Homo sapiens: one gene and its partner. The protein of the gene in region 1 interacts with the protein of each later gene in a biochemical or structural test. Each region holds a gene or a part of one and is shown on either strand. Other genes may lie near its edges.

Evidence for each region.
Region 2: the proteins of NR1H4 (region 1) and NCOA6 form a complex in vitro, tested with the Homo sapiens proteins (one study listed by BioGRID).

Annotation. Positions count from the first base shown.
Region 1 is NC_000012.12:100,508,226-100,512,049, forward strand, and holds part of NR1H4 (bile acid receptor), read left to right. Parts: intron 1-2,552; coding exon 2,553-2,918; intron 2,919-3,824. UniProt on the Homo sapiens protein: Ligand-activated transcription factor. Receptor for bile acids (BAs) such as chenodeoxycholic acid (CDCA), lithocholic acid, deoxycholic acid (DCA) and allocholic acid (ACA).
Region 2 is NC_000020.11:34,819,034-34,822,857, reverse strand, and holds part of NCOA6 (nuclear receptor coactivator 6), read left to right. Parts: intron 1-1,218; exon of another isoform or gene 1,219-3,556; intron 3,557-3,824. UniProt on the Homo sapiens protein: Nuclear receptor coactivator that directly binds nuclear receptors and stimulates the transcriptional activities in a hormone-dependent fashion. Coactivates expression in an agonist- and AF2-dependent manner.

The DNA of each region.
Region 1 (3,824 bases):
ACCATTTCAGGCTCAGGAAGCAGCAGGTGGGAGAAGTCCTGAGTCTGGAAGCGGCAAGGCACATTCAAGAAACAGAGATGTCCGAACATGCAAAATGGCTGGAAAAGAAAGCAAGGGTAGAGTCATGCAGAAGCTTGCAGGCCCAGTTATAGGTTATGTGCAAGCGGAGGCCGAGAAGGGGGTAACAAACACAAGTAGGAGGATGCAGAGAGGGGCTTTGAAGATCATGTTTTTAAGTATCACACACCTGAAATTACCCCCAGAGAGCAGCAATTCAGTGCATGGGCTTTGAGATTAGACTCCTAGAGCTCAAGTCTCATCTACTTAGGTAGGTAGGAGTAAAGTTGCTTAACTACTATGTGCCTCATGGTACTCATTTGTAAGTGGGGGTTAATAATGTTACCCACCTCATAGAGTTTTGTGAGGAATAAATGAGAACATACAAGTGCCTGCTACTACGAAGAACTCTATAAAAGTTTTCTGCAAAATGTGGTAATAGTAATCATAATAATTATAGTAATCGTTTCAACTATCTTTTGAGCACAGCAAAGAGCATTGCCAATTTGAAATCCCCAAAGCCCCAAAAAACCACGTTTTTCTAAAAGTTTGGCACACACTTTTTTGGTGACAGAACCTGACCTGAATGAATGTGAAACTATTTATGGTCTTTACTTATTGCACTTGCTGTGAATATTCATACGTTTCCCTGTGGAAAATATTGCTGTATTTGATTCTGGGTTCTGTTCCAGACTGTGCTGGGAGGGATATATAAATAGCACTGTATTCTGTTCTGAAATCCTGAAAATTCTGACTTCTAAAACACATACGACTGCCAGGGTTTCAGATAAGGAACTGTGAATCTGTATCATCTCACTCAATCCTCAGACTAACTCTTGATATCGATATTATCATCCCAACCTTGCTGCCATGAAAACCAAGATTTATCAATAGTTTGAATAATTTGCTCAAAATCCCACTGTTCATAAGAGATGGAATTGGAATTTTGGTCTAGAATTGTCTGACAACACTTTGAAGAGTCAGACACATTTGTAAACTTTCCTATCTCTTATTTATGTCTATTTTTTCAGCATTTGCATAATTTCAATTTTTTATTTTCTAAAGAGCCATAGTTGATGTTTCCAGGAAATAGAAGCATTTTCATAACCTGATGATTTTCTATTACCTAGAGGTTTTCTAAATAAGGGACTCCTTTAATAATGATGGTAGTAAGAATAATTGTTATTATTCCTATTTTAAGTCAGCTATAATTTATCGAGCACTTCTGTGTGCCAAACATTTAGCAAAGCACTTGGCACACATTATCTCATATAATCCTTACATCAACCCAATGAGGTAGGTGTTATTATTCTCTGTTTTATTAGAAGAAGACTGCAACTTAAAGACATTAAGGAATTGCCAGCTGCACACAGATTGTAAGTAACAGAGCAGGAATTTGAATCCAGTAGATAGATTGCAGGCACTGTATTCTTTTTTTTAAAGCTCCTCCTTTGTTTTATAATGATTAAAATAACACATACATATACACATGGCAAAAACTACAAACAGTAAAAAAAATTATGCAATCTTCTATCCCAGAATATAATGTAAAAATATCACCTCTCACAGTCACCACCACCTACTTTCTTCTGTATCATGCAGAAATTTGTCTTTGCACGTGGGCACGTGCGCGCACACACACACACACACACACACACAGAGTTGGTGTTTAATACCGATGTGAATATACACATTGGTCTATAGCTTACCTTTTTCATATAGCACCATATTGTAGAAAATTTCCATAACAGCACATAGAAATCTAAATAATTGTTTTACATCTACTTAATAGTGTATGGATGTAACAAATTTATTGAAGCAGACTCCTATGGATGAATATTTAGATCGTTTCCAATTTATGGCTCTTGCGAATGTGCTGCAAGTGAATATTTTTACAAAATACTTTTTCATAGAGGTTCAAGCATATTTCTAAAATAAATTTTCAAGCAGTGGAAAATTTATGCTGGGTGAAAAGGACATTGAAGTTTAAAAAACTGGAAAATATTGACAAATTTCCCCCCAAAAATATTTGTTTCCCCAACAGTGTGTATTATTAAACTTTTTAAACCCTCACACATTTGAAGATGAAAACTGTAATGTTTTAGTTTCAATTTAAATTTAATTATTGGCAAAGGTGAGCACATTTTTCTGTTTACAAAACACGGTTATATTTCTAACATTGACTATTCCTTTCCTTTATCCCTTTTTCCATAGCTTCTCAAATATTTTCTTATTGGTTTTCAGGAGCTCTTTATACATTAATGAGATGAGTCTGTCCTCTATGTTGCAGATATTTTTCTGAATTTTTAATTTGTCATTTAATTTTATATATATATATATATATATATATATACTCTAAAGAAGTTGTAAACTTTTATGTAGTTAAATGTTTCAATCTTTTCTTAGAGCCCACACTCCTAACCATTACGCCAAACTGCCTCTCTAATTTCCAGAATGATGACATTCATTCCAGTTTTGTTGTCACTTTTGTTCAGGTGTTTTAACAGAACAAGTGGCAGGTCCTCTGGGACAGAACCTGGAAGTGGAACCATACTCGCAATACAGCAATGTTCAGTTTCCCCAAGTTCAACCACAGATTTCCTCGTCATCCTATTATTCCAACCTGGGTTTCTACCCCCAGCAGCCTGAAGAGTGGTACTCTCCTGGAATATATGAACTCAGGCGTATGCCAGCTGAGACTCTCTACCAGGGAGAAACTGAGGTAGCAGAGATGCCTGTAACAAAGAAGCCCCGCATGGGCGCGTCAGCAGGGAGGATCAAAGGGGATGAGCTGTGTGTTGTTTGTGGAGACAGAGCCTCTGGATACCACTATAATGCACTGACCTGTGAGGGGTGTAAAGGTAAGCATCTTTGATTGGCAGTTTTCTCCTTCAGGTTTTACTATATTGGTTGTTGAAATCCCTTGAACTAATTGCTTCCCTTTTCCCAGGCAACTTCCCATTTTCTCCTCCTGTGCGCCTACCTCCTCCTACATCCTCACCTTTGTTGTGTAGTCAAAGATCTGTAGGAAAAGACTGTTAGAGTATTTAGCTTAATGTTTAAGACTGTTAGAGTATCTAGCTTAGAGTGTTTAGCTTTCTTCCTTTTCACAACCTCACACGTAGCTAAAGGGAACTTATGATTAAATTGAATTTTTTGTAGGTTTTGTTTGTTTTTGTTGTTTTTTTAAAAAAGAAAGAAGAAAGTGATGAACACATCTCTTTTAAAATTAAGATCTAGAAGAATACAACTTTATTCAATAAATATTTAAAAATATTTTTCATGTACTTTAGTTAATTGAGAAAGAGAGAAAGAAAGAGCCAAGTAATAATAGCTTATATTACAAAAAAATATTTTAACTTGGCATGGTGGCTCATGCCTGTAATCCCAGCACTTTGGGAGGCCGAGGCAGGCAGATCACCTGAGATCAGGAGTTCAAGACCAGCCTGGCCAACACGGTGAAATCTCGTCTCTACTAAAAATACAAAAATTAGCTGGGTGTGGTGGCAGGTGCCTGTAATTCCAGCTACTCAGGAGGCTGAGGCAGGAGAATCGCTTGAACCTGGGAGGTGGAGGTTGCAGTGAGCCAAGATCGCACCATTGCACTCCAGCCTGGGCAACAAGAGCGAAAATCCATCTCAAAAAATAATTTTTTTTTTTTTTATTTAGCCTAGGCATGGTGGCTCATGCCTGTAGTTCCAGCACTTTGGGAGGCTGAGGTGGGTGGATCGCTTGAGTCCAGGAGTTCGAGACTAGATAGAGCAACA
Region 2 (3,824 bases), on another chromosome or scaffold:
TTCAGTTAAAAGTTAGTAAAAGAGATTTTTTTCTCCCTGTCCAAGTTCACAAGCCCCACTGAAGTCCTATCTATAGACTCCTGTCTATGAACCCCAGGTTAAGAAACCCTACTCCTACTGCCAGGCATGTCTTCCATTCAGCAAACGTTTACTGTGCCTCAAGGCATCTACTGCATATCAAGCATTATACTGGGCTCTGTAGCTTCAGAAGTTTTTAAGGCAGAGTCACTTCACTTTGGGTATGCAGCCCCATGAGTGAAGTAGACATGTGAACAATCATAGTTCAGGATGGTCGATGCCAAAGAAGAGTTATTAAACGCTATAAGGACACGGAGATGGGTGTGTCTGCTCAAAGAATCAGGGAAGGTGTTGCGAAGGGGTGACATTTGAGATGTGTCCTAAAAGATACAGGAATTTGCCAGTGAAATGGAGAGAAGGGCCTTTCAGGTAAAGACACGTTTTCAGGGAATGTATTAATAACTGAATGTGGCTGGAGCATAGAATGTGTGTGAAAGCATGGCCAGAGATGAGACTAGGAAGACCATGTTAGGAACCTGGTTGTGAAGGACCTTGCTAAGGAGTTTGGACTGAATCCTTAGCTGAGAGAGGCATTCAAGATCTTCGAGAAGGGGAGTATGTGGTGGAGGTTTAATTTCTAGGAGATAAATGGATGTTCTTTGGAAGGAGGGTAGACTGAAGACCAGAGAGGTAATGAGGATCTGAACTAAGGCAGAGACTGTGGGCACTGAGCAGAGTTAGAAGTAATGAGGATCTGAACTAAGGCAGAGACTGTGGGCACTGAGCAGAGTTAGAAGTAATGAGGATCTGAACTAAGGCAGAGGCTGTGGGCATTGAGTGGAGTTAGAATTTGCAGGTGTTGATTATTGACATTGTGAGTGGCTTAGGGGGAGTTTTTTAAATTTCTGGTTTGGGGTGGTGTCTGTCAAAGAGGTTTAAAAAAGTGAAAGGAAGTCTGGGCGTGTTGGCTCACGCCTGTAATCCCAGCACTTTGGGAGGCCGAGGCGGGCGGATCACGAGGTCAGGAGATCGAGACCATCCTGGCTAACATGGTGAAACCCCATCTCTACTAAAAATACAAAAAATTAGCCGGGCGTGGTGGCGGGCGCCTGTAGTCGCAGCTACTCGGGAGGCTGAGGCAGGAGAATGGTGTGAACCCGGGAGGCGGAGCTTGCAGTGAGCCGAGATCGCACCACTGCACTCCAGCCCAGGCAACAGAGCGTGACTCCGTCTCAAAAAAAAAAAAAAAAGTGAAAGGAAAATGAGGGGAGAATTCTCATTGATAATAAGGGCGAAAAGGTTTTTTTGGCAGAGTAATAGAGTTTTGGAAACCATTGCAAAGCTGTCAAGTGTGGTGTAGTTTTTGGTTAAGGAAATCAGAGGTGTCAGCAGACATAAAAGACAGGGGAAAACATGGGAAGTGTCCTACCTATAGTGTAGAAAAAGCACAACTATCTATGTCAGAGGTCGACAGACTGTGGTCCATAGGTCAAATCTGGCCCACGATCTGTTTTTGTAAATAACGTTTTATTGGAACATAGCCACACTCATTTATTTATATATTGTCCATATCTTCTTTTGTGGTACCAATAGCAGAGTTGAGTAGTCGTGACAGAGATGTGTTGTGTCAGCTCACAAAGCTGGAAATACTCTTTACAAAAACATTTGCCAACCCCTGATCTATGTGTTTGAGTGTTGGATGTTCAACCTCTAATTTGCCATCCAATGTCTATATGATGATAGAGAATGAATAAACGTCTTGGCTCTGCCCTTTGGGCTGGATTACCCATGCTCTGTGTACCTGCAGCATAACACAGACCCCTGAATATTTATATCAGTCAGTGATGGCAAGGTCTATTGTTCTGGAGTGTACTGTGTGGTAACTGTGGTAGTGCCAGCTTTACACGGATTAGATAATGCTCGGGCTTGTTTTGCCATTTTTTTTATTGGGTTGTCTTTTACAAAAGATTTATTTATATATTCTGATTATTAATCCTTTGTTGTTGGTAGATATTACAGATGTCATTTCCCAGTTTCTTGCTTATTTTAATTTTTTTTTTTTTTTTTTTGAGATGAAGTCTTGCTCTGTCGCCCAGGCTGGAGTGCAGTCGTGCCATCTCAGCTCATTGTAACCTCCGTCTCCCAGGTTCAAGTGATTCTCTTGCCTCAGCCTCCCAAGTAGCTGGGACTACAGGCATGTGCCACCACACCTGGCTGATTTTTGTGTTTTTAGTAGGGATGGGGTTTCATCATGTTGGCCAGGCTGGTCTCAAACTCCTGACCTCAAGTGATCCACCCGTCTTGGCCTCCTAAAGTGCTGGGATTACAGGTGTGAGCCACTGCGCCTGGCCTGTTGCTTATTTTAAAACATCTGTTTTAAGGTGTCATTTGTTAAAAAGTTCTGAATTTTAGTATCAACTTTATCAATCTTTTCCTTTAAGATTTGCAGTTATTCTTTGTTTTGAGGCAGGGTCTCGCTCTGTCACCGAGGCTGGAGTGCAGTGGTGCGATCTCGGCTCACTGCAGCCTCAACCTCCTGGGCTCAAGCAACCCTCCCACCTCCCATGCCAGTTGAGACCACAGGCATGCGCCACCATGCCCTGCTACTTTTTGCATTTTTTGTAGAGGCGGGGTTTCGCCATGTTGCCCAGGCTAGTCTGGAACTCCTGAGCTCAAGCAGTCCACAAAGTGCTGGGATTACAGGTGTGAGCTACTGTGCCCAGCCTGCAATTATTCTTTATATTCTGGAATACCTACTGTTGTTTTCAATGGTTAGATCTTTAATGTATCTGGAATGGATTCTTATGTGTAGTGTAAGGTCGGGTCCAGTTTCATTTTTTTTCCCTATGTATAACCAGTGATCCCAGCATCATTTATTGAATGGGGCTTGCTTTCAAATTGTGAGCTCTTTTTGGTGGAGTCTGTCTCAGGTCCTTATTAAGCACTGCTGCTTGCTGATTGTGTGACCTTGGACAAATAAAACCTCATTGCGCCTCAGTCTTTAAGGATAATAGTAATCTCATAGGGTTTTGTGAGGATTAAATGAGTCAATATACATAACGTGTAAAACAGTGCTTGGCACCTAGAACATGCTCAATAAATATTAGCTGTACTTTAGCACTACTGTTCATTTCTGATTCCTCAGCACCTGGTACAGAGCAGGGGCTCATTTTGCTCAATTAAATTGCCAAATTAATTTGGTTTTCAGGTCAATCAGAATGGTGAGAGTTGGGCTGAGTGTTGCAGGAGATGCTTCCAAGGAGCTACTTAGTTTTAGGGGCTGCCTTAGATTATCTGCTAGGATAGAACTCTTCTCACGCCATCACTTTTGCAGAGAACTTCTGTAGCAGAGGTTGCAAACTGGCAACCTGTGGTTGGATTTGACCTGTATAAGTATTTTGTTTGGTTTACACAATATTTTTAATGTCTTAAAAATGTACACAGACCTCTGAGTTTCTGACTTAACCTTGAAAAATTGGAAGATCTGTCAACAGCAAGCCCATATTCATTTATAGCGGTAACCAGCTGAAACTTTTAGGTGAGATGTGTTTCCTAGTTCTCCATAGTCTGCCTTGCTGTCTTGCTTTGCTCTTTATTTTTATGGCCCTGCAGACATTTAATTTTCTGATTCTTACTTTATTGAGGTATTGAATATTGTCTCCCCCAAACCAGTAAATGACATATTGGGATGGTGGGGGGGATGGCCAGAAATTGACAGATGAGTTTGTGGGCAAGTAAATACTAAAACCTATTTCTAAGGATGAGCCATACTTGATCATAATGAATAGAATGATAAATGAAATTAA